Regions from separate parts of the Homo sapiens genome. Here regions 2, 3, 4 and 5 are each linked to region 1. The links come from fine-mapping of genetic effects on gene expression. A gene starts in region 1. Each other region holds a variant in brackets. All regions are shown on one strand. Distances are between the middles of the regions. Region 1 holds the start of TXNL4B (thioredoxin like 4B). Region 2 overlaps PMFBP1 (polyamine modulated factor 1 binding protein 1). Region 3 has its middle 4.3 kb from the start of PMFBP1. Region 4 has its middle 55 kb from the start of PMFBP1. Region 5 overlaps PKD1L3 (polycystin 1 like 3, transient receptor potential channel interacting).

Evidence for each region. PIP is the estimated chance that this variant, and not a neighbour inherited with it, causes the effect. A credible set is the group of variants that fine-mapping cannot tell apart.
Region 2: its variant is the best candidate, but not a certain one, in a credible set for the expression of TXNL4B in sun-exposed skin (GTEx, PIP 0.73).
Region 3: its variant is the best candidate, but not a certain one, in a credible set for the expression of TXNL4B in blood mononuclear cells (TOPMed, PIP 0.72).
Region 4: its variant is the best candidate, but not a certain one, in a credible set for the expression of TXNL4B in minor salivary gland (GTEx, PIP 0.81).
Region 5: its variant is the best candidate, but not a certain one, in a credible set for the expression of TXNL4B in uterus (GTEx, PIP 0.90).

The regions. Positions count from the first base shown.
Region 1 is chr16:72,090,629-72,095,805 of GRCh38, forward strand. TXNL4B (thioredoxin like 4B) reads right to left here and starts at 2,992. Exons shown (of 4, transcript NM_017853.3): 1 at 2,739-2,992; 2 at 1-158. The coding sequence starts at 121. DHX38 (DEAH-box helicase 38) reads left to right here and starts at 3,219. Exons shown (of 27, transcript NM_014003.4): 1 at 3,219-3,423. RefSeq lists enhancers at 2,765-3,094, 3,105-3,154, 3,215-3,514.
Region 2 is chr16:72,150,675-72,155,674 of GRCh38, forward strand. PMFBP1 (polyamine modulated factor 1 binding protein 1) reads right to left here. Exons shown (of 21, transcript NM_031293.3): 4 at 3,537-3,785; 5 at 1-155. Among named protein-coding and RNA genes, the nearest start is that of PMFBP1, 19 kb to the right of the region's middle. The variant G/A (reference allele first, on the strand shown) is at 2,944.
Region 3 is chr16:72,173,876-72,179,052 of GRCh38, forward strand. It overlaps a transcript of PMFBP1 not described here. Among named protein-coding and RNA genes, the nearest start is that of PMFBP1, 4.3 kb to the left of the region's middle. The variant G/T (reference allele first, on the strand shown) is at 3,127.
Region 4 is chr16:72,224,285-72,229,461 of GRCh38, forward strand. It overlaps a transcript of PMFBP1 not described here. Among named protein-coding and RNA genes, the nearest start is that of PMFBP1, 55 kb to the left of the region's middle. RefSeq lists an enhancer at 1-129. The variant T/A (reference allele first, on the strand shown) is at 3,232.
Region 5 is chr16:71,992,717-71,997,716 of GRCh38, forward strand. PKD1L3 (polycystin 1 like 3, transient receptor potential channel interacting) reads right to left here. Exons shown (of 30, transcript NM_181536.2): 3 at 500-616. Among named protein-coding and RNA genes, the nearest start is that of PKD1L3, 5.2 kb to the right of the region's middle. The variant C/T (reference allele first, on the strand shown) is at 3,089.

The sequences.
Region 1 (5,177 bases):
GCTGCAGACAGACAGGATCTTCATCTCTCCCAAACCTGAGAACCAACACCTTCTCAGCAGTACTTTTTATCGCCTGGTCTACTTCCTTTTTGCTAGTCAGCTTGGGCAGTAGGAAGCTCATCTTGAAATAACCCAAATGTGAATCCTCACTGTCACTCCTGAAATAAAGGTGCAATGTTTAAAGACAGTTTAGATTAAGTGCGTGAGCCCTCATTAAAAAAAATTAATTCACAGAGTAGCTAATGTATTCACATGGTATGAAAGAAACATCATAGAAAGGTAACACTGTGGAGTTTCCCTCTCTTTGTCCCTGCTCCTTGGAACCAGTTTTCATTGTTCCCTCCCCCGGGCCAGATAACTGCTTTCATTAGTTTCTCATGTATCTTTCAGAGTTTTGTTATGCATTCACCAAAAAATACAAATATGCGTTCCGATATTTTTTTTCTCTCTCTCCCCACCCCCAAAAGATAGCCTATTGTATCAGTGTTCCAGCAGGAAAGCGATGACACTCTCAACTTTGGTAATTTGAAGGCAGTTTAATTAAGGCAGGTGTAGAAAAACAATACGGTAAAGTGTACTACTTTGGGGCTAGTAACAGCGGGATGCTGTACCCATCCCTAGGCCATGGGAGGAAGAAGCCACGGTAGGAAGCAGTTATAAGAATTGTGTGGCAGAAAGAGGTGAGTGGAGAGGACAGTGTATAGGAGGGCAGCCTGCTGTTAGGTGTTGCAGCCACTCTCCTCCCTCCCTCTGACCTTTGCTCATGCAACCACCGGCTGACTCCAACTGGAACCAGAGGGCAGGGGCCTGTTGAGGCAGGCAAACCTCCCTGTCCCAGAGCAGTCTAGAGGAGGATGAAGAATGGCTGTGGAGGGACCAATGGCAGATGTTCAGCACACACACTTTATCTACTCTTCAGCACTTTTCATTATTTCAAACCTAACCTATGAAGATTGCCCCATATCTCTATATAGAGAACATCCATATTCTCTGTCATGGCAGCATATTATTTCTTGCATGTGTTACACTTTTTAAACAGTCCTTTATTGTATACTTTATATTATTACAAGTCCTGGCTTAAAGATTCTTCGTGTGCACCTTACTAGGTGCACCTCATTACACGGCAAACAGATCAATTAAGAGTGTGTGTGAAAACTACAATACCATAAACAAATAATAAAATACTGAGGTACAAGGGACCTAATACAACCCCGTCATTTTACAAACTAGCTTGCTTACAGTTGCACTTTCTACTACAATGACAAGGACTAGAATACAGGCCACCAAATTTCTAGTCCAGGGGTCCTTCTACTACAATAATCTATTTTCATGATTGGTAGAAATTTCATTTTTGAGAAACTCTTTGACAAAGAAGCTTAGTTTTGTGGTCATCTATAAGAGACTCCATTGAGATGGTCGGTATTTTGAATTCAGTTCCAAATATGAAAAGGGAGGATTTCTTTTCCTATTTTTTTTGTCACAAGTCACATTTTAAGATACGAATTAGGCCAGGCTCACCCCTGTAATCCCAGCACTTTGGGAGGCCAAGGAGGGTGGATCACCTATGGCCAGGAATTCGAGACCAGCCTGGCCAACATGGTGAAACCCCGTCTCTACTAAAAATACAAAAAATTAGCCGGGCGTGGTGGCAGATGCCACCTGTAATCCAAGCTACTCAGGAGGCTGAGGCAGGAGAATTGCTTGAACCCTGGAGGCGGAGGTTGCAGTGAGCTAGGATCGCTCCACTGCACTCCAGCCTGGGCAAGGCAACAAGAGCGAAGCTCCGTCTCCAAAAAAAAAAAAAGGAATTATTTAACTAAAATTCACATAGGAAATAAGATTGTTCCAGCTATAGGTCATACTTTAAACAGGGACATTGATGGCCCAAAGGGACGTCATCAGATGTGAGCAGCAGAACAAATTACCAATGAAAGGGAAGGTCAAAGAGAAGACGGATCTGTCCCACTAGAATTCAAACAAACAGCAGTTCCTCCGTGTTACTGATCGAAAGGAGAAAGTAAGGGGAGAACAAAGTTGTTAGTGGTGAGGCTAGGGGTGCAACTGGACAAACGTTGGAAGCAGGAGAGGAAAACTGAGACCACATCTAAGAAAATGTCCATAGTAAATGATACCCACAGAGAATTCCCAAAAGAAGACGTACAAATGGACAGTAAATAAACTAAAAAGTTAAGCTTTACCAGTAAGCAAAGAAAAGCAAATTAAAACATATGTTTACAAAGTCACTGAATTGGCAAAAATTAAACAAGATAGTGGTAGGGGCAGGCACAGGGAGTTCCTGCTGGAATGCAGACACAAAACCTTTCTGGAAAGAAAACTGACATACTCTTTGACCAATAACTCCACTGCTTTCCTCTCTCCCTCTCTTTTTCTGAGGCGGGGTTTCGCTATGTTGCCCAGGCTGGTCTCAACTCCCCAGGCTCAAGCAATCCTCCCGCCTCAGCCTCCCGAGTAGCTGGAACCTCAGGCGCGCGCCACAACTGCAGAAACACCAAAAAAAGAAAAAAAGCTTGAACTCACTTTTGTACAGAATCTTACTACAATGTATTCCAGAAAAACAACTGGAAATCAGTGGTCATCTCTGCGTGTGAACGCATGGGTGATTTTTATTTACAGCCGGGCGCGCATCTCCATTTTCCAAAATATCCGATATACATATTTAAAGTCACCTGTGTTGCGCTGCTCCTGGCCCACAAGCGCTAAGGGACCCCAGCACTTACCTTACTCGTCCACGCCGCCTCACTCCCTTTCACTTTGTGGCTGTCAGCAACCACTTCTCGGAAGAGCCCGGGCGCGGACAGCTCCTTTCATCAGCCCCAAGCCGGACAGGACCCTAAGACCAAGTCACCCAGGGGCTGTTGCCTAGCAACCCTCGTGGCCCCGCTAGCGGGAAGGAAACCGAACAGAAAACGCACAAGCGCAGAAAAGAAACTCCTGGCCGTCGGTCGGCCCCCGCTCAACAGCCCAATAAACGGAAGAGCTTCTAGTCACCGCCCACCTTGCTCGGCTCTGACCGGAAGCTAGGCGTCACCTCCGCCCGTATTAAAGATGGTCGACCTTTTTCCCCTCCTTTTCCTGCCCCCAGACTAGAGGCGGGATGTAGTCTCTTAGGCTAAGAGTGATTGGTCACAAGGAGACTCGGAAGTGTCTGATCAGAGCCCCAGAGGAGGCCTTGAGAGCCTGTTGGCGTACCGTTCCACACTTGGATCCAGGAATCGGGCGTGTTCCAGGCTGCTCTCTATGGTAGCTTTGGGCGGATAGAGGGGGCGCGCAAAGTATTAAGGGACAATAATGGCCGCTTTCAAGGTGTGGATTTTGGCTCCTTGAGCCTGTCTGAGCGAGGGGTGGCAGCGCCGGCGCCCCAGAATCCGGGACAGAAGGGTCCCAAGAGTCGCGCTTGGTGAGGTGAGAGTCCCTTCTTCCTTCCTGGCCTGCCCTTCTGTAATCATGGCGGCTCTAGGCGGCGGATATTGGTCCCCTGCTCAGGTCCGGGCCCCAGTTTGGGGAGTTCCTCTGTCGTCCCTGTCACCCACCTTGCCTTACTCACCTCAGGGATGCTGCATCCGTCCTGGCCGCCTTGGCCTTCCTCCTTGCTCTGGTCAAATCCTGCTGCCTGGAGCGGCCTCGCTGAGATCCAGGGATGCTGCCTGGAGTGGCCTTGGTCCCTCTCCCAGGCCTCCGCTTTAACCCACCCCAGACTGTCACCGAGCCCGAGTAGGACTCCTTGTGTCTTCCTCTGCTCTCTCACAGTGTCATTTATACCAGGCAATCTGGTGGGCGATCTCTTCTACTAGAATGTCAGCTCCAGGTGGGCGGGGATTTTTGTCTTGTTCTCTGTTGCTATCGCCGAGAACAGCAATTGGCTCAGGGACACCCTCAGTGAATAATTGTTGAATGAATGAATCCAGGTTCTTTCTTCCCTGGCTTTCTCGTACGCCTTGTAGTTTCTTTGCCATTAATCCTTCTCAAGAATCTTGCTCTTTAGCTCCTTATTTGTTCGTCTCAGCAGCTAATGAAGTTCTCTCTGGCTGTCTCCTTGTCCTGTGTTGCTGGAATCTTCCCTTGCTGTCTCCAGAAATGTTTGGGTTCCTGTCCTCCTTTAATAAGTTTAAATTAATTCATTTTTTAATTTATCAAACGCTTATTTTGCTAGACATTGAGCTACAGCAGTCAACAACACATCCAGTGTTCTCTCAACTGCGTAGAATGGCAGTCCAGGGTACCTTTCCTAGTTTAGACAACTATTGAGTAGAGCCTGTATATCTTTACCTTCTTGTGTGGATTTCCTCACATGCGCACAGATGTCACCAATATGCAGCTTTCTTTTTTTCTGTTCTGCCTGATGGCATTTTCAAAATGTAACTCTTGTTTCTGCATTAATATTATGTGTCCAGTCTGTTTGGCAATACTCTGTAGAGCTGTGCATTTAATTAGAGTTTGGTAAACAATTCTGGATTCTGGTGGCATCTCCTTTGCTTTGCTAACTTGTTGGAATGAGAGGAATTATCCAAGCATCCAGAACTGATATATGTTGATGAGTGGCAGATGTGTAGTGAGAGGTAAAGAGGAGCTTGTTCCAACTTGAGTGCCAGAAGTCTTGTAGCCACTTAAATACTTCTCAGTAACACCTTTTCCTAACCTGGTGTTTCTCATAAATATTTTTGGTGAACATGGATTGTTATTAAACTGATTTTGGCTGCTGTGAGTAAATTGTTTTCTGTAAAACGCAGCTAGGCCAAGAAAAGCCACTAAAGTATGGAGAACATGGACGGTAGCCTTCTGCCCCATCTCTGTGCTGCTGTACCTGTTGTTTAAAGAGAGGAAGAGGTAGAACTCATGTAAAAAAATGGGTGAGGGACCAACAGTATATAGGAGGATAGCAAATAATACAATGTAGCAGTTACATTTATGTTAACTGTTATGGTTACATAAAGAGCTACTCTTTATGGTTTCACATACACTTTTTGTTTGATTCTCACAATAGCTTCATGGATTAGATAAGGTAAAAATTTTTTCCATTTAATAGATATGAAATTATGGCTAAACAAAGATTAAGTTATTTGCTTACCATCATACAGGTAGAAAGTGTCAAGAGCCTGGTTTCTAATTGAGGTTTCTGATTCAAATTTAGTGGTGTTTTCCCTACATCCCTGTTACAG
Region 2 (5,000 bases), 60 kb after region 1:
CTCAGGGAAGACTGGTATTTATCCCTGTAGAGGTTTAAGCTCCTCTCTAGAGAGGCGATCTTGTCCCCGGCCAAGGCGAGTTGCTCCTGCGCCAAATGGAGCTTCTCCCCTGTGTTCTCGTTGTGATTTCCCATTTCCTCCTCATAGAGAATCACCTGTAGGTGTAGGAATAAATCCACATTGAGCCCATGGAAGCACGTAATGAGGAAAGGATGCGGTTGTAAGATTCCCTGCAGAGAAGTCTTGTATCTGAACCAGAAGACCAGATGAACAGAAGAGAGGCTGCACAGATCTAAAAGCTACAGTATGTAATATCAAGATGCTAATGATTGGAAACAAAAAAAGGTGGCCCTAGTTAGAGGTAAGCTCCTTCAAGGCAGGATCATATCCATTTCCCATTCTGCCCAGCATGTGGCAGAAACTCAATGAATACTTGCTAGTTGATTAATAGGAATGAATTTGTATAGCTCTGTTTTTTAAGGGCTTGAAATGCTGGTATTTTTTCCTTCCCAGGCATTCTCTAGAGGTTGAACTTAGAAAATGCAGACTTCCTCCTGCACACAGGACTATGTCAGGAAAGTTCCCAAGAGATAGGTGGGGAACATGACCCAAAGTTCCTCTGGGATTTGCACAATCCTTGTTTAGATTTATTTTCTTCCTCATCAAGTAATTAGTCAACAAACTGACAGATATTTATTGAAAGCTCACGAGCATTGTGTTAAGTGCAGAGGGGATATATACATATTAGACATATGCTCACCCCTCAAAGAGTTTAAAACTTTCACAATCTTGGGGACATAAGATTTAAAATGAATAAACAGCTGTAGGTAGTTGAGTGTGCTAAATTGTATGGCTCGAATTTGATGTGTTGAAGGAGTTAACAGCAGAAGAGTCATGAAGGATGGCTTTATATTAGTTTAAATAATCCAATGTAGAATGCTGATAGAACATGTTCCATTAGTTTAAGCTCATTATACTTGCTGTCTGTCATTTGAGATTCTTCTTAGGAAAGGATAACTTTGTGTAAGGTGTCTACTACGTAAGGGGAAGAAGAGAGGAATATTTTATATCCAAATATTTGTAACCAAAGCTGTCAGTGGCCAGCCCATATCCCCTGGGCACTTGCTATTTCTTTGCAAGTTAACCCCATTCCCACTGCAAGCATATTCAACTCTGCCTGAGGGCTTCTCTAATACCAGGAGCCCATTCAACCAGAGAGGCAAGACAGGGTAGGTTAGAAGTGCTGGGGGGTTAACGCCCTCAGGAGCAGCCCTCAACCAATGACTGGGGGTATGTTGGTGGGTTCACTCTGAGGCATGTTCTACACTATCTCCCAGAGTTCCCCAGAGGGACCAAGCAAGCAATCTACTCAATACCAGTGTCCTTTATGGGCTTCCGGTCCTTCTTTGACTCACTTGCTCATGTGCATGCAGGAATCACCTCCGGAATTAGTTACTTGAATTTATATCCTTGTCTTAGGGTCTGCTGTTGAGTGAACCCAACCTTAGACAGATGTTTGATGAGGCTGTGCAACAAGACATTGGGGGAACTTGGCAGAATGTCTAAAATAATTCTCTCAATGCTTTCTCGGTTTGGGATCTTTGACAGTGACTGTTATTTGCCGAGTCCTGTATGTATTCTCCCGCTCTTCCTTACTAATAGAACCTTGACTCTACTGGGGGCAGCAATGCACCTCCTAAAACACCACATTTCCTAGGCTTCCTAGAAACTAGCTGTTGCCATGTGACTAATTCTGGCCAGGGATATTTAAGTGAAGGTGTTGTGGCTTCCGGAAAGTGTCCTTAAAAGGAAGGGAGTGTGCCTTTCCTTTCCACCCTTGTCACCTGGTCCTCTGCCCTTTTATCTGGATTATTTGGAACAAGGATGTGGCCTGGTATGGTGACTCATGCCTGTAACCCCAGCACTTTGGGAGGCCAAGATGGGCGGATCACCCGAGGTCAGGAGTTCAAGACCAGCCTGGCCAACATGGTGAAACCCCGTCTCTACTAAAAATACAAAAATTAGCCGGGTGTGGTGGTGCGTGCCTGTAATCCCAGCTACTCAGGAGGCTGTGGCAGGAGAGTCACTTGAACTTGGGAGGCGGAGGTTGCAGAGAGCCAAGATCGGGCCAATGCATCCCAGCCTGGGCGACAGATTGAGACTTCGTCTCAAAAAAAAAAAAAAAAAAAAAAAAGGATGTGACGGCTGAAGCTCCAGCAGGCACCTCAGGTGACTTAGAGAATGGAAGCCCTGAGCTGATGCTGGTGGAACCCAAGGATAGACCCTTAGACCTGATGACACACACAGTTGCCATAACAGCAACAGACCACCTGTCTCTGACCTTTTTAAATATGACACAGAAATCAACTAGCTTATTTATTTTCTGTTATATGCTGCTAAATAGAATCCCAACTCATTCAGGGTCACTTTATCCAGGCTGGACCCTTTTGTTTAAGTTGTAGTGAACCACTAAGTTTTAACACAGCCCTGCACTATCTTTTTAAAACTATGTGTATGTGCACAGGCTAAGTCATAGATTATATTTGTAGGATTAGAATAACCTTTCTCTGTTCCTCCCACTCTTAATTCTTTTGAGCAGATTTTCACTAGGTGACAATATTCCCTTTTTAAAAAGTCTATGGTCTGTAAGGTCCTACCTAAAGTCCTTGAAGTTAGTCCTTAAGCAACAGCACCATCCAAAACACTCTTTGAAATTTTTTTTTCTTCTCCGTCCTTCCAATAGAACCTAACTCCTTGAAATTTTATCTTTAAATCTAAAGAAAGAAAATGCCAGGGGAAACCCCAGGATGGAAGAGTACGTCTGTCCCATCATTTAGAACCCATGGTTTACTGCACCTAGTGCTATCACTGCTCAAGTGGTTTTAGTGCTGCAGCTTTGGGTTTTTGGAATTTACTTGGGATTCTAAAGGGGTGGTACTCTTC[G/A]GCTTAGAAAATACCACCCTGGAACATGAATGGGAATTAATGTCCTGAATATACCTAAGTGAAGCCTATATGATCTAAAACTCCAGTCTGAAAAAATTACCTGGTACTCTCAATGATTGACTCCCACTCAACATCTGGTTATCTTATCTAGTGTGCACGTGCCAGGAATTTATATATTATCAAGACCTTATTTTTCTAAAAATGGTGGATTTAATGGACCTTATACCTCTTTGATAACCCTCAGAGACCTACAGTCTTTTGCATTTACATTGCAATGGTAATAGAATGGAGAAGATGGACTTATACACACACACACACACACACACACACACACACACACACACATGCCTGCACACACACTCCACATATTCCACATGCATGAATACTGCAGCTTTCACCGAGTTATGCCATTCAGTTTAGTTTCCTTCTGCTCAGCTTCAAAAAGATCAAGAATTAAAGGGGGAAGGTTTATAAAACCTGCTCGGGATGTTGCAAAGCTCTCCTAAGTCCAGCGTCTGCTTTCTAGTGGGCTTGGTCTGATTTCTGCAGGTACCTAAGAATGTGGGTTATTTCCATGGTTAATCTGTCTATACCTCATCTTCTTTCAGTTTGCAGTGATGGTGCAGAAGAACCAGGTCGGAAGTCTGCTTCTCTAGGATGGACTGATACTGGCGGAGAGAATAGTAAGAAGTCTGCAACTCCTCTGTGTGAAACTCCAGTTCTTGTTGAAGGACCAGCAATTTTTTCTTCAGTTGCTGGAGTTGTCTCAGATGACACTGTTTACTGGACCCAAATTCCACCTCTGACTCCTCGAATGCTAATGCCTGTGCTTGCTTCTTGTCCTACCATAGAGACAGGATATACAAAAAAGGCTTTAGATCATCACTAAGGACGTATTCATTCCAGGATTTTTTTTTCATTTGTTCAGTCATTCACATCCATCTATCCATCTTTTTATCTTTTCATCTACAGAGATCTTATTAAACATTTCACTCTATTCACAAGGAAATGTATCACTTAGTATTCCCACTCAGTAAGAAGAATTCAGTAGAAGAAAAAAAATGGTTCTTATCTACCAAAATCTTATTATTTAGGTCAGAAGAAAAAATATACACATAAAGGACCTAGGGAGATATGTGTAATAATATGCTGAGGTGTTGCCTTCCCATATAAAGATAACACTAGTGACTTGGAAGGAAATGGATTTCTGGCCTTGGTTCTTGGACTAAACTTGGTATTAAAAACACCTGGGTAAAGGAGCATTGCAATGAGTCAAGGGTGAATTCTTGGGGATTTTGAAACGCTGAAAAATGAGAGCCAGAGATATTGTTCAGGTACATCTGGGCACTGACTCTGTCTCCTTCTCCTGAAGGAAGATGTGACCTTGCGGATGCTGACTCTGTGTGCGTGTGTGTGTGTGTATGTGTGTGTGTGGTGTGATCTCTTCTTGCTAATCCACAATCTATCTGAAATGCTGCTAGGCTCATCCTTCATTTTCATTCATTCATTCATTCACTCAACAGACACAGGCTAAGCACCTATGTTTTACCAGGTATTCTGCTGGTAGGACACATCCCTGAGTTGCTGATGCTTCTATATTTCCTATATTTTCCAGCATCCCTTATGACAATGACACGTGAGGTTAAGGTGGATAAAGAGGGTAGCCTCTGGGCAGTCCTTAGCATCCAACCCTGCTTATTATCCTCCTACACATTCTTTAAGTTTCTGTTTAAATCCTGCTCTCCTTCCTGTTTTTTCCCTGCAAAGCTGTCTTTGCACCAGTACCACAGACTTTGCTAGCATGTCCTTAATGTGCTATTCTGTATTCTGTCTGTAATTATTTCTGTGCATTTTAACTTCTAATTAGATTATAAACTCCTGGAGGGCAGGGCCATGTTTGCTCTTATGGGGCCTAGTTTACAGATTCATACATACCTATGAATTGAATGAAAGAAATGAAAATAGCGTCCAAGCAATCTCATTGGCTCCCGAGGGGTTGAGCTTGTGGCCTTGGCCTCATTAACAGAGTACTTCTAATACCGTGGCTTTCAAATTTT
Region 3 (5,177 bases), 83 kb after region 1:
GCCAGGACTTTGCTCATGTCTCCCTCTTCTTGAACCCTTGTTCTTACATATTCTGTTCTGCCTCTTGCGTCTCTGTTGAGACCTTCATTTCTTCATGCCTTGTCTACTGCCATCTGCCCAGGCAACTCCTTTTTTGTATTCAAAACTCCTGCCATCTGCTTTTCAAAGTAGGACTTCTCTTGGTGACAGCTGTGCCTAAAGAAATGATTGTAGTGAAAACAAAAACTTGGTCAGAGCTTCTAGTGATGTTTTGTGCCTTCCCTCAGTCTACTATCAGAGCACCTTGCAGATTCCCAAGAAACACCTAACACCACACCTCAAATGGGTGACTAAGGTAGCAAGTATCAAGTCAGGTGTGCAAAAAGAGAAAGTAACTCTTTCTATTACTCAGTGTTTTTGTTTAGCCCCATTTTCACCAAATGGCAGAAAACACAATCTTAGTTATTTCTGAGAAAGCACCACGACTTTCAGGTTAAAAATGAATCAGTTCATGATTCCCTCACAGTTCATGATTCTCTCAACCTCTTTAAGGCGTCTCCAGAGTGTGCTTAAGATTTTGAGGTCCCAGTTTGGATCCTGGCACCAGGGGAAGCTTGTGGTCCATGGTCATGGGCATCTCTCCTAGCTAGAGTATGCCGAGGTGTCACTGTCCTGGTCAGTAGGCCACATGTACTAGTATTAGTCTGTTCTCACATTGTTATATGGAAATACCCGAAACTGGGTAATTTATAAAGAAAAGAGGTTTAATTGACTCATAGTTCTGCATGGCTGGGGAGGCCTCAGGAAACTTACAATCTTGGCAGACAGCACCTCTTCACAAGGTGGCAGGAGAGAGAATGAGTGCCAGCATGGCAAATGCCAGACACTTATAAAACCATCAGATCTCGTGAGAACTCATTCACTATCACGAGAACAGCATGGGGGAAAACACCCCATGATTCAATTACCTCCCACCAGCTCCCTATCACAACACATGGGGATTGTGGGATTACAATTCAAGATGACACAGCCAAACCATATCACCTTATATCCTGTGTCTTCCTCATCCTAAGGGCTTTGGGTCATCTGGCACTTCCTCATCCTTTGAAGATGCTCCTCCCTGTTCCCCATCAAGACACAAACACATGCACACACATACCACACATACATACACACACACCACATGAGAGTAGATTCAGACTGTCTCTTAGACTTGTCCTATCAGCATTCTATCTTTTACCTTGAAAGGTATTGAGAGAAAGAGGACAGAATGCTCACTTTCCTGGTTTTGATCAAAAGTCCCTCTGCCCTTCGATCACTAAACCTATCTGGGAATCTATTGTTTTCCCTCCCTTCTGCCCCATCTCATAGATCTCACCAGGGTCTAATTCTCCTGCTTATGTTCCAGTTACCCTATTCCTCCTCTTTCCTAACTCAAACAGTCTTTGTGTGGTTTTGGAGAGAGGAAGGAAAAGGGGCATAAGTGAACAAGTTCTCTGAAATGCAGTTTTAGCAGGCCAGGATGTGAAACACATCAGTTAGTACTTCACATACCACCTGCCCACATTGGGTTACACAAATGCCGTAATCACAGACTGCTAATTTTGACTCCCTCCCCAAGGAACTGGTAAGTGCCTGGGTATATGGTTGACTCCTGGCCTTACAGCAACCTTGTTGCTCCAAGGAACACCGACTATTCCTTTTCCTTCATGGCCTGGATGGAAGAATATCAAGGGTCTGTTTTTCCTAATCTAAAACATGTTTCCGGGTTTTCAGGAAAGAGATGCTTTTTTGGTTTAAAATTAAAGCTATCTTTGTGGGATAATACAAACTAACTCAGGCTTACCTATACTAAGCCATAAGTCTTTCCTTTACTTATGTTGGGCTTTAGATTTTTCTCCAATGTTCTACCTCCTACCAGTGAAAAAAGTGTGATGAATCTTAGAGCTCTTAATTATTGAAATGATGAGAGGGAGCTAAAGGTTTTCTCTATTTTTAAAAATGTGTGAGCCCCATGAACAGACAGGGATACTTATTGTATACTAATTATTTCTACCCAGAAAGTATGATTGGAGCCAATGTGCAGAGGCTTGGTGTGCAGAGGCTTGGCATGCAGAGAGTTCGCCTTTTTGAATCCAAACCCGGTTCTAAAGGAGAAAATCCCTGGTAGTGCAGAGCATAACTGGTAGGGGGAGATGGTATGAGGAGATGATGTTGGAGATGGTTTTGCCAGGGTTTGGGGTTCTGCAGAGTAACAGTGAATAGGAACCTGACACCAATGTCACTGACTGAGCCACAGTCCAATTCCAGGACTGGAGTTCTTCTGGAGAGAAAGTAGGGCTAGTTGGGTCTCTCCAGAAAGAGGCTTTTGAATGACAGAAGAAATTAGGGGCCAGGAGGAGCAGGAGAAGGAATCCAGGATTTATGAGACTCACTGTCCTAGGTGAAAATGTCTCCCCCTGGCTCTCTTCTTTGCTACCTTTCACAGAGGCTGTTTGTTGTCTGTTCCAACATCCATACTCTTTATTTTCCTTAGTAACAGATGCTCATTTTATTGGGATGTGCATGCACTCATCTAAAAGACTCTATCTCCTAGCCTCTCTTGCAGCTAGGTATGATTATGTGTCTAAGTTTTGGTCAATGAGACATAAAATGGAGTATTGTGGGGACTTCCATGAAATCTTCTGAAAGAGAAGTAGTGCACAGCTCTTTGTTCTTCCCACCTTTCTAATGGCTTGTAATGCTGACTTAATGCCTGGTGTTCCACCAGCCATCTGGAACATGAGGCCTTAATGCTATGGAACTATCATTGCCAGCCCTGGATAGAAGGAGCAATTTCTATCTTGCTTAAGTAATGATTTTGTTTTTAATTTTTCTGTTTCATACACCTGAATCTAATGCAAGCTGACACTGACAAAACACACTTATTTAAGTTACTCTCAGAGATCTCTCTCTACAGTTCACTCACCGTTTCTAGCACCTCCACTAGTTGCTTATACTCTACATTTTGGAACCCCTGTTTCATGGTGGACCAGCTCTTCAGCGATTCCACAGATATGTTTCTCAAATGCCCCTTCCCTTTCTCGACTTGCCTTGGTTTTCTCTTGAGATGTCAGTTCTTTGTGTTCACTTTCTCCTTCTCTATTT[G/T]CTGTATGGAGTAGAAACAGCCAGGGTCAGGGAGAGAGGAACATTTCAGCCTTCCTACTGCCACCACTATTACTCCCATGCCATTTTGGAAAATTTCCCATTTTGAAGTACACAGTCCACCTAATCTTTGTTGCCATTATCATTGACTGACATGGAGAAAATTCTCCCAATTGGTTGCTCTTTCTTTCTTTACGAGATATATTCTTTCTGCCTGTCCAAAGTCACACATCTTCAAGACCCAACCCAATTGCCATTTCTTTCAACTTCCCTAAACTACATGTCACATTAACTCTTGTATGGCAGCTACTATATGCCAGGCAGTGTTCTGAACATAAAATAACAGAGCTAATCCTCACAGCAGCCTTGCCAGGTGTGTACCCTTTCCCCCTTACAGCCCTTTTCCCATACCTCTTTTAACACAATGATCTGCCTTTATTATGGTTGTTTGTGATTTGCTTTGTCTCTCCCCAAAGGTAGAAGTGATCTATTCTGGTGAAAGAACAGGAACACACAGACCTTTTTGAAATAATTTTAGATTTCCAGAAAAGTTGCAAAAATAGTACACAGAGTTCCTGTATACCCTTTCCCCAGTTTCCCCAATATTAACATCTTACATGATGATACGATGATCAAAACTAAGAAATTAACATGGGTCCAAAACTATGGACAAAACTGCATACTTTGTTAGGATGTCACCAGTTTTTTCACTAATGTCCTTTTTCTGTTCTAGGATCTGATTCAGTATTCCACATTGCATTTAGTTGTTTTATATCTTTAGACTCCACTAATCTATGATAATTCCTCAGTCTTTCCTTGTCTTCCGTGACTTGGACACTTTTAAACAGTACTGGAAAGTTAATTCATAGAATGCCCCTCAATTTGAATTTGCCTGATTTTTTTTTCTTTTTGAGAAAGAGTCTTACTTTGTTGCCCAGGCTGGAGTGCAGTGGTGTGAACATGGCACACTGCAGCCTCGACTTCCCAGGCTCAAGCAATCCTCCCACCTCAGCCTCCCAAGTAGCTGGGACTACAGGCACTCACCACCAAGCCTGGCTAATTTTTGTATTTTTTTGTAGAGACAGGTTTTCACCATGTTGCCAAGGCTAGTCTCAAACTCCTGAGCTCAAGCGATCTGGCTGCTTCGGTCTCCCAAAGTGCCTGATGTTTCTCTGTGCTGAGATTGAGGCTATGCATTTTGGGCAAGTGTGTCATACACCTTCTTAGTGTATCATGTCAGGGATACATGATATCAATGCATCTTATCCCTGATGATGTTGACCTTGGTCACCTGGTTATGCTGGTGTCTACTGGGTTTATCTACTATAAAGTTATTATTTTTCCCCACTATAATTAATAAATATATTAAGGGAGATACTTTAAGAGTATACAAATATCCTGTTTTTCTTCAAACTGTCACCTGCTATCTTTAGCAAGGTGGATCTCACTTGCAATAATTGTTACAGTAGTATTCTAATGGGGGTCTTCTTTTTCCTTTATTTCTTCTACATTTATTCGCTGGAACTCTTCTGTAAGAAAGAGCTGCTCTTTCTCACCCATTTAATTAATGTATTGTTTACATCACTATGAACTCATGGATATCTATTATATGGGCTATAATCTAATACTGTTATTTATTTTGTTGCTCAAATGTTCCAGCTTTGGCCAATGGGCCAAAGGTTGGCTCCTGAGCCCTTTCAACAATACCCATTCTTAAGCACATTCTTACTTTTGGGTACGAGATGCTCCAGGTTCATCTTATACTTTTCCCTGCCTCAGCCACTTCTTCATGGAGTCAGGGCTCACATTTTGACTCAAGTTAACTTCTCTGAGTCTCAGTTTCCCCATTTGGAAACAACTGGAACAATAATACCTACCTTACAGGGTGGTTATGGGGATTAAATAAATAATGTAATGGGGTAATATTCAGACAATTTTAATGGGCATTTTTTCTTTGCCCTCTCCACCATAAACTCTCCAACATAGACTCTGCTTCTTGAGTTGCCCTGGGCTGGCACTATGCAACAAGACTCTTGTCTTAAGAAAAGATTTTC
Region 4 (5,177 bases), 130 kb after region 1:
GCTCTTGCGAGAGCCTCTTCCTGAGTTTCCCTCCTCCAGTCTCTCCTCTACTCCGTTGACTGCCAGATTGTCTTACAGCATAGATGAAACCACGTGACTTCTGTGCCCCAAGACTTTGATGTCTACAGAATAAAGTTCAAGCTTCTCAACGTTGTCACCTGGAATCTGGCCACAATTGATCTTTTCAGGCCTATCTCTCCCTATCTCCTTTTCTAATTACACATTTTTGATTCTTGCCCAACCCAACCACTCACTATTTCCCAAGCACACCCTATACTTTCCCACGCCTTTGACTCCCACATGACCTTTGTCACACCTGCCTCCCTTCTGCTCTGCCTGACAAATTTTAACCTCTTCTTCAAACACCAGCCCAAATGCTCAGTTCCATAAAGCTTCTGTGACCTTGCCTCGCCTGCCTCAGAGAGAAGTAATTTGCTTTTAGAGTTCACACAGTGCCTGTGAATACTTGTTGAGTGACTGAATCAACTTGCTCATAGCAATTTCATATTGTCTCTTACACCTCAATTGGTTGCAATACGTGCACTGGTCTGTCACCTCCCGAGATTCCAGGATCCCTAAAGATATGAACAAGGCCTTGTTTGTATCCCACACAGAATTTGTACTTTGCACATATTAAGGGCTTCTTAAATTTAGTTATACTCTACTAACAATAAAATTTATGTGTTTTGACACATTTTTTGTTCTGAGTTACTTATATAAACAAGCATGTAGTTCTATCTTTAATAATGAAGAATTAATGGTACCTGTAGATGAATTTAACGGTGAGACACAGTGGTGGAGCTAAGGCGACCTCCCCAACTTCTGGTCCAGTGTTCTTTGCTCCACCATACTTTATCCATACATCAGCATTCCTCAAAGAACTAGAACACTTCAGAATAGTTACTTCTTTAAGCACCTGAAAGAAGAGCCTATCAGAGAAGCAATGTCTGAGCAGGAGAAACCATGTGCTCTCCCCACACCCCAAATGATGCACAGAAGGCACATCCATGCTGGTCATGCACAAGATGCCTGTTTCACTTAGTCTCCGAGGTCAAGCTTACCACCTTAGGTCACTCTTTTATCTCAGGACAGCAGGGAAATAAAGAAGTCAATAGACCCCACTGGCCCGGCACAGTGGCTTATGCCTATAATCCCAGCAGTTAGGGAGGCCAAGGCGGGAGGATCACTTGAGCCCAGAAATTCAAGACCAGCCTGGGTAACACAGCAAGACCCCATGTCTTTACACGGGGTCTCTACAAAAACAAAACAAAACAAAAAACTAGCCAGGTGTGGTGGTGCATGCCTAAAGTTTCAGCTACTCAGGAGGCTGAGGTGGGAGGATCACTTGAACCTGGGAGTTCAAGGTTACAGTGAGCTATGATCATGCCCCTCCACTCCAGCCGGGATGACAGAATGAGACTGTTTATAATAATAATAATAATAATAATAATAATAATAATAATAATAAAGCCTCACAAAATCCTAGAAGCTCTTATTTCGACATAATCCTTTTCACATAGCCCATAGATGCTAGGTGTGTAGTCACATTTGAAGAAATCAATCTAGGTCACAGATGAAAAATTGGTTAATTCTTATACCTGACATCACATGTGCATGTACATCCACACACACATGCATGCACACTCACAGACACACACACACACACACACACACACACACACACACTGAGCAACAGTCTTCAGAAGCCAAAGCATCTCTAAGCTACCAAACACTACTTTCTGAGATTCCCTACCCAGTTCTTCCTATGAGCACTTTATTCCCACTGAACATGGTCATCCCCAGCTGAAGACTATACCCTATGCTATGGAATCCATCCTCTCTGTCAAGCTACATATTTGTACGCTTTGTTATCCAATCCAACTGGCCCAGGCTTTGTGAGCAGTGTCTGAGTATTCCTCTGGGAATTCTTTGGTTACTAGATTATTCTGGGCTGTGGTTATCTTTCAATACCTCATAGGTATTATCTAGCCTTTCCAGTGATAATAATTAGAGCAATTAGCATGGCCAGTAGCTTTGGACTGATTTATTCTCTTAAGCTAATGTGCAGGTAGGAAAGATTTAACTGCCCTGGTTCTGTCAAGGTCCAAGTGGTGCGTAGGCTTCCACTGCTTAGTCAAGCATTTCCGGGGTTAATTTTCATTAAAATGACCCTGACACTAATGACAAGTGACTGTTTCTGCCCCCATTTCAATTTCATAATAATGTCCTTTTATTTGCTTCTCACTAAAGGATACAGACACATTGCCAAAAGCTTCCATTTGTCTCCATTATATATCATTTTTAATTTTAATTTCAGAATTGTTTCTTTGTAAGAATTTTGTCTCTCTCTTAGAACAAAAAATATTTGAGGGCAGAAACTGTATTTTATTTGATAACCGGTACATAAGGTGGTTGAAATGATAAAACAAACAAACAAACAAACAACAATTCCACATCTGAACTAACAATATTCTAGAGATTCGCAAAGAAGCATTTGGATTTCAGTCTCGCCACAACATGTCAAGAGAGACCTTTTGTCAGTTCCTTAACCCCTTGATCTCCATCAGCAAAAATGAGCATAATAATGCTCACCTAAAAAGGTTTTAGCGAAGATGAGATGAGAAAAAATTTTATGAAAGTACCTGGCATTGCTTGGATGTCAAATGAATCTGAGCATATTACCATATTACCAAATAGCTGAGACCTAATAAAAAACCCACCCTCCCTAAATGCTCATGAAAATGTAACTAAACCAAGAAGAATTTAATATGTTTCTTTTATGCCCCTCTGCCTGATTTCATTTGTAGAAAAAAAAAAGCCTATAAAATTTAGTGTTTTTAGGAATTGTAAAGACTACTTAGCTTAATGTCCGCATTTAATAGGAAAAGAAACTGAGATTCAGAGACGTTAACTTCAAGGTTATATGGCTAATAATTAGCATGCTGATTCCCCTTACATTTTGCACACAGGATAGTCTGCACTGTTATTCTGAAAGATGTGTTAAAGAGCTGATCCTTCCTCTTGAGTCTAGGGTGAGAATGACTGATGACAGCAATTCACCTTGAATCCTTTTTATAACTTTTTGTTATGCTTCCAATGATTAAAGGGACACATGCTTATTCTAGAACATTTGGAAGAAAAGTGTAAGAAAGAAAATTAAAACTACCTACAGTTCATCATCTAGTGATAAATATTTTTAACATTTTAGCATGATTAATAAAATTGGGATGA[T/A]TCTATATTTTTGTACTTGAATTAAAAAAATTGACATTATTCTATTGATATTTCCCCATATTATTAAAGTCTTTGAAAATATGATTTCAAAGGGCCGTATAACATTCTTCCATGTGGATTTATCATTGCTCAGGAGGCAGAATGGTATGCCCTTAAGAGTCAGAGAGACGTGGCATAGAATTCCAATCCCACCCCTCTAACAGCTAGGTGATACAAAACCAGCTACTAATCCTCATTAAGCCTCAGTCCTCACATCTGCAAAATATTGATAATATTCACCACATGTGGTTTCTATCAAGGTTAAATGATGTGGCATATATATGTACTTAGCATTGTGCCCCCACACAATGAGCACTTCATAAATGGTAGCTATTTATTGTTATTATGTTATCACATTCTTATTATTGGACATTTAGGTTGTTTCCAGTTATAAGTAAACACCTAAACGCCAAGTGAAATATCTTCCCCGTAGCCCCCATGGTAACCTACCTGAAATATGTATCTGTTATGCTTACTCCTGTGCTTGAAATCTGTAGCTCCCCATCAAAGGTTTTCAAACTTTCTTTTCAGAAGTGGAAGCCTTTTGTTAAACATCTTAAGGAAAACTTCCCAGGCAACTTGGGTTGTGGCAGGGGTGGGGTTCGAGCCTGGACCAATTCCCAGCCCTTCTCCCACCGTCGTTGACATAGGCCCCTAAAGCATTTCTGAGGAATGCTAAGGCTACTCTGAACACACTGGGAGGAATTTTGGCCTACTGGGTGAAAGGAAGGTTCTGAGTATCGTGTACGATACCTCCAAACTGCTCGTTCCTGAAAGACCCCGATGCAGTTTATTCCCTTACGATTTTGTTATGTTGTTGCTTTTGCCTGGAATGTTCTTAACTCCCATCTTCCCAAGGCTAACACCTACAATGGACTCCATCTGCACATCACTTCACCCAGGAAGCCATCCCTGCTCCAGCCTGCTGAGACACTCTTCTCCCGTTTCTAGGATACCTGGTCAAGTTCTCCATCACTGTGGGGAACACAGAGCTGAACTGTGAGCTCTTACAGGACACAGACTGCATCTCATTGACAGCTGTATTCCCAGTCCCCAGCATAACGTCTGGTACTGCTAAATGCTCACCAAAACTATTTGTTAAATCTACAAACTTATGAATAAATTTGGGGTGCCTCTCTATTTCTTTAGGATAGTTTTGCAGAAGCAGATTACTGGGTCAAAAGGATGACCACTTTTAGGCTTCTTTTCTTTCTTGTATATTTTTTCCCTTACTTCTCTACAGATGAGTACAATATTTTTCTTGTATACTCTTTATATATTACTTTTTTTTTTTTTTTTTACTTTCCAACTTTATTTTAGGTTCGGGGGTACATGTGCAGGATTGTTACATGAGTAAACTGGGTGGCATGGGGCTTTGGTGTACAGATTATTTTATCACCCGTAATAAGCACAGTACCCCATTGGTAGAGAATGATCCTCATTCTCTTCCCACCCTCTAGCCTCAAGTAAGCCCAATGTCTATTGTTCCCTTCTTTATGTCCATGTGTTTTCAGTGTTTAGCTCTCACTTATAAGTGAGAACATGCAGTATTTGGTTTTCTGTTCCTATGTTAGTGTGCTTAGGATAATGGCCTCTAGCTCCATCCATGTTGCTGTCAAGTATATTATCTCATTCTTATTTACGGCTGCATAATATTCCATGGTATATATGTACCACACTTTTTAAAATCCAGTCCACTGTTGATGGGCATTTAGGTTGATTGCATATCTTTGCTATTGTGAATAGTGCTGTGATGAACATAAGTGTGCATGTGTCTTTATGGTAGAACAATTTATATTCCTTTGGGTATGTAACCAGTAACGAGATTGCTGGGTTGAACGGTAGTTCTGTTTTAAGTTCTTCGAGAAATTGCCAAACTGCTTTCCACAAGGGCTGAACTAATTTAC
Region 5 (5,000 bases), 98 kb before region 1:
CATCTAACATTTGCAGCTGTGAGGTCATACCCCGAAGAGTGATCACGAGATCCACTTTAAATCGATCTGTTTCACTTCTTTCTTTCAGTTGATCTCTATAACCACCCATCCACCGATATTGATTGCCGTCATTTCAGGCTAATGCATCCTTCCCAAATAGTACTTGTTTTTCAAAATTAAATAAACAAGTGATAACACCATAATTTGAAAGACTTTGCAAGAACTTTAAGACGACTACTTTGTTGATGAAAAATTTTGTGGGAATAAAACCTTGTCTTTTATTTGGGAATATATGAAAAGACGGCGGCCAAGGGCATATCAAGAAAACACATACATAAAATGAAGGCAAAGACTGCCATATTAAGATCAGACAGAATAGAATGCAACGAATATTGGGCACATGTTATAACACATTTCAGCATTAATTCAGTCTTGTGCATTCTTTTAGCAGAAATTGATTCCACGGATTTTTAAGGTTACTAGAGGAGTAACGCATTACCTGGGGGCATTTTGTCTCTTGCTATTGCAACTCCTCTTTTTGTCTTCTTGTGTCTCTGGTACAAATGGGAATTATTTCCATTTCTTTCATAATGGGCATCTCCGTCCAAAAAGTCACCTATTTGAAAGCCAACACACAAGTTAATTTATAGGTTATAGCTATGGCTACAAGTCTATAAAACCATCATTACATGCACGTATGTGATAATCAGGAAAACACAAATTAAAAATTCCTATCCAGTTTTTTAAGGACACTAAGAATTCTGCAGTAGCCCTTTTGCTCTGCTCACATTATGGTGTCCCACATTTCAAATTAAGTTCACTAGTTGGGTCAACACTGAGAAGTTCATTAACCCATTTATGCCTAGTGTTCCATTATTGGAACACTAGGCATGTGGAGTTATTTACATCCTACTGCTTAAGGTCATCGCCAGGGTCTGATTTTTCACCAAAAAAGTTTGCAACCTCCAGCATAAATGGAAAATTCCATACTAAGCGTAATATTCTCCTTTGAGTTCTGTAACTCTCATTGGTAGAGATAAAAGAGTTCAGAAGGTGGATGATAACATTCTTTTTTTTGAGACAATTTTTGCTCTGTTGCCCAGGCTGGAATGCAATGGCACGATCTGGGCTCACTGCAATCTGCACCTTCTGGGTTCAAGTGATTCTCCTGCCTCAGCCTCCCGAGTAGCTGGGATTACAGGCACGTGCCACCACGCCTAATTTTTTATTTTTAGTAGAAACGAGGTTTCACCATGTTGGCCAGGCTGGTCTTGAACTCCTGACCTCAGGTAATGTGCCCGCCTTGGCCTCCCAAAGTGCTAGGATTACAGGTGTGAGCCACCACGCCCGTCTGGCAATAACATTCTTGAACATGCCTCCTTGCATACACGAGCAAGAGTTTCTCACACACACAATTGGACATGGCTAGAGAAAATCATATAACCATGATGACTATGGCTCAGCTTAAATTCGCTATCGTGAAGCTCGAGCAGCCTGCCTTCATACTGCCTGGCAGTCATACTGTTTCCACTCTCCCAGGTGACTCCCACTTCCCTCTCTCTACTCAACCTCCAACACCTGGGAGCCTCCCTCAGTCTCATTCTTAGGTCAGGTGATAACCTTGCTTTCTAACTCAAGGGGAATATCAAAGCAATTTAGAGTCCTTCCATGACTCTGACCATCAAATCTAGCTGTCTACCAGCACCTGTACCTGTAGCGAGACAATGCCTTCTCTCATGCTGCTACAAATCTTCCTACTCCTACCCAAAGTGAATCCCTCTAGTTGTTTGGTAGCTCAGATTAAGTACATCATTCCTGCATGCTATTTCTTCTGCCTTAAAAAAAACCCAGCAACTTATATTGGCCTCATGAACTATTGCCCCAGCTGTTTCCTGCTCTTGAGCAAAATTACCTTAAAAATTGTCCAAACTTATCAGCTCCAATTCTTCTCCTCCCCTCTTTTTCCCTACATTTAGGGATTGCTTTTTACAATGTTAACAGGCTGGGTGTGGTGGCTCATGCCTGTAATCCCCGCACTTAGGGAGGCCGAGGAGACTGTATCACCTGAGGTCAGGAGTTCGAGACCAGCCTGGCCAGGATGGTGAAACCGCCGTCTCTACTAAAAATACAAAAATTAGCCGAGTGCCTATAATCCCAGCTACTTGGGAGGCTGAGGCAGGAGAATCACTTGAACCCAGGAGGTGGAGGTTGCAGTGAGCCAAGATCACGCCATTACACTCCAGCCTGGGCAACAAGAGTAAAACTCCATCTCAAGAAAAAAAAACAGTTGACTTAAATTTGTTTTATAATTGCTTTAGTCTGTTTTGCACTGCTATAACAGACTACCACAAACAGGGTAATTTATAAAGAACAGAAATCTAATGCTCACAGTTCTGGAGGCTGGACGTCCAAGAAGAAGGCACTGGCACTTGGAGTTGGGGGAAGGCTGCAACCTCGTAAGGTGAAAAGGCAAGAGAAGCCCTCCCTCTGCCAAGTCCTTTTATAAGGGCCCCTAATCCCATTCACAAGGGAGGAGCCCTGTAGGCCAACCCACCTCTTAAAGCCCCACGTCTTAATGCGATCACATTGGCAACACCTGTTTTGGAAGGGGCACATTCAAACCATAGCAATAATTATGGAAAACATTTAAAGAGTTCCAATGCCAAACTATAAAACCAGGTACATTTCGAAAGGTCTCATTTCCATCTTCATCCTTTCTGCCCTATTTTCTCTCTCCCTCATAGGTAACCATTTTCATTAGTTTTTGTTTCTCCTTCTGTTATATTTATACGTACGTGTATGTATACAGGCAAATATATATGTTCTGTACCTTTATTTTCCACTAAAAAAATACATCATAGAGATAACCCCACTGCAGTACATGGAGATTGTTGTTATTTGCTTTTTACAACCAGTTCCCTCTTGATGGGCATGTGGATTATTCCTACTTTTTTCTATCACAGAGAGCTACAATGAATAGCCTTACGTGTGCATCTTTTTGTACTTTTGCTGGTTTGACTTTGGGATAGATTCCTAGCAGTGGACACTGGGTCAAGGGTAGATGTATATGTAATTTTGCTAGATATTG[C/T]TGAATTCCCCTTTATTTATAAATATATACAGATTATATCTTACTGCATTCTCACTAGCAACTTATGAGAGTACCTATTTTCTTATGGCCTTGCCAACGGAAAGTGTTGTTAAGTTTGTGGATTTATGCCAATCTGATAGGTGGGAAAGGGTATCTCAGTTTATTTTTAATTTGCATTACGCTATTTTTTTTGGCAAAAATACTGTGTAAGTGATGTGTATACTTACATCAGTGCATTTTTCTTTTTTTTAAAAAATGTAACTTATTATTTTGAGATAATTGTATATTCACATGCCGATGTAAGAGAAAATGCAGAGAGATGCCTTTATCCAGTTTCCAAGGGTAACATCTTGCAAGGGTAACAACAGGATATGGACGCTGATACAGTCATGTCAAAATTTTTTTTCAATTGCTATAAGAATCCCTCACATTGACCCACCTCCCCCGCCTTTTTTTTTTTTTTTTTTTTTTTTTCTGAGACGGAGTCTTGCTCTGTCACCAGGCTAGAGTGCAGTGGCGCAATCTTGGCTGACTGCAACCTCCGCCTCCCGGTTCAAGCGATTCTCCTGCCTCAGCCTCCTGAGTACCTGGGACTACAGGTGCACACCACCACGCCTGGCTAATTTTTGTATTTTTAGTAGAGACTGGGGTTTCACCATGTTGGCCAGGATGGTCTCAATCTCTTTACCTCGTGATCCACCCGCCTTGGCCTCCCAAAGTGCTGGGATTACAGGCATGAGCCACTGTGCCTGGCCCACATTGTCCTTTTATAGCGACGCCTACTTCCTTCCTGCCCCCATGCCCTTCTTAGACCCCGACAACCACTAATCTGTTCTCCATTTCTATCATGTTATCATTTCAAGAATGCTCAATAAATGGCACCATAGAGTACGTAACATTTTGAGATTGGCTTTGTTCACTTGGCACAATTCTCTGGAGATTGCTGTGTGTATCAATAGTTTGTTTCTTTTTATTACTGAATTGGACTCCATGGAATCCAATTCAACAACCAGAGGGATTCACTTTGGGTAGGAGTATGAAGGTTTGTAGCAGCATGAGAGAAGGCATTATCTCTCTACAGGTACAGGTGCTGGTAGGTGGGTAGATTTGGTGGTCCGAGCCTTGGACGGACTCCAAATTGCTTTGATTTTTTTTTTTTTTTTTTTTCTCCTTGAGTTAGAAAGCGAGGTTATCACCTGACCTAAGAATGAGACTGAGGGAGGCTCCCAGTTGTTGGAGGTTAAGTAGAGAGAGGAAAGTGGGAAAGAGTCACCCGGGAGAGTGGAAACAGTATGACTGCTATGGCTAGACCACAGTGGTTTAATCATTCACCTGTTGACAGACATCTGAATTGTTTCCAGTTTTGTTCTGTTATGAATAAAGCTGCTATAAGCATCCATATACATAGTTTTACGTGAGCACAGGTTTTCTCATTCTGCGATAAATGCCCAGCAATTGCTCAGTTGTATGGTAGTTGTTTTTTTTTTAAGAAATCACCAAGGCCGGGCACGGTGGCTCATTCCTGTAATCCTAGCACTTTGAGAGGCCGAGGTGGGAGGATTGCTTGAGTCCAGGAGTTCGAGACCAGCCTGGACAACATAACAAGACCCCCCCCCCCACAACCACTCCCCACTCCACCGTCTCCACATAAAAAAATAAATAGGCTGGGCGCAGTGGCTCATGCCTGTAATCCCAACACTTTGGGAGGCCAAGGCAGGCGGATCATCTGAGGTTGGGAGTTCGAGACTGGCCTGACCAACATGGAGAAACCCCATCTCTACTAAAAATACAAAATTAGCCGGGCATGGTGGCACATGCCTGTAATCCCAGCTACTAGGGAGGCTGAGGCAGGAGAATCACTGGAACCCGGGAGGCGGAGCTTGTGGTGAGCCGAGATTGTGCCATTGCACTC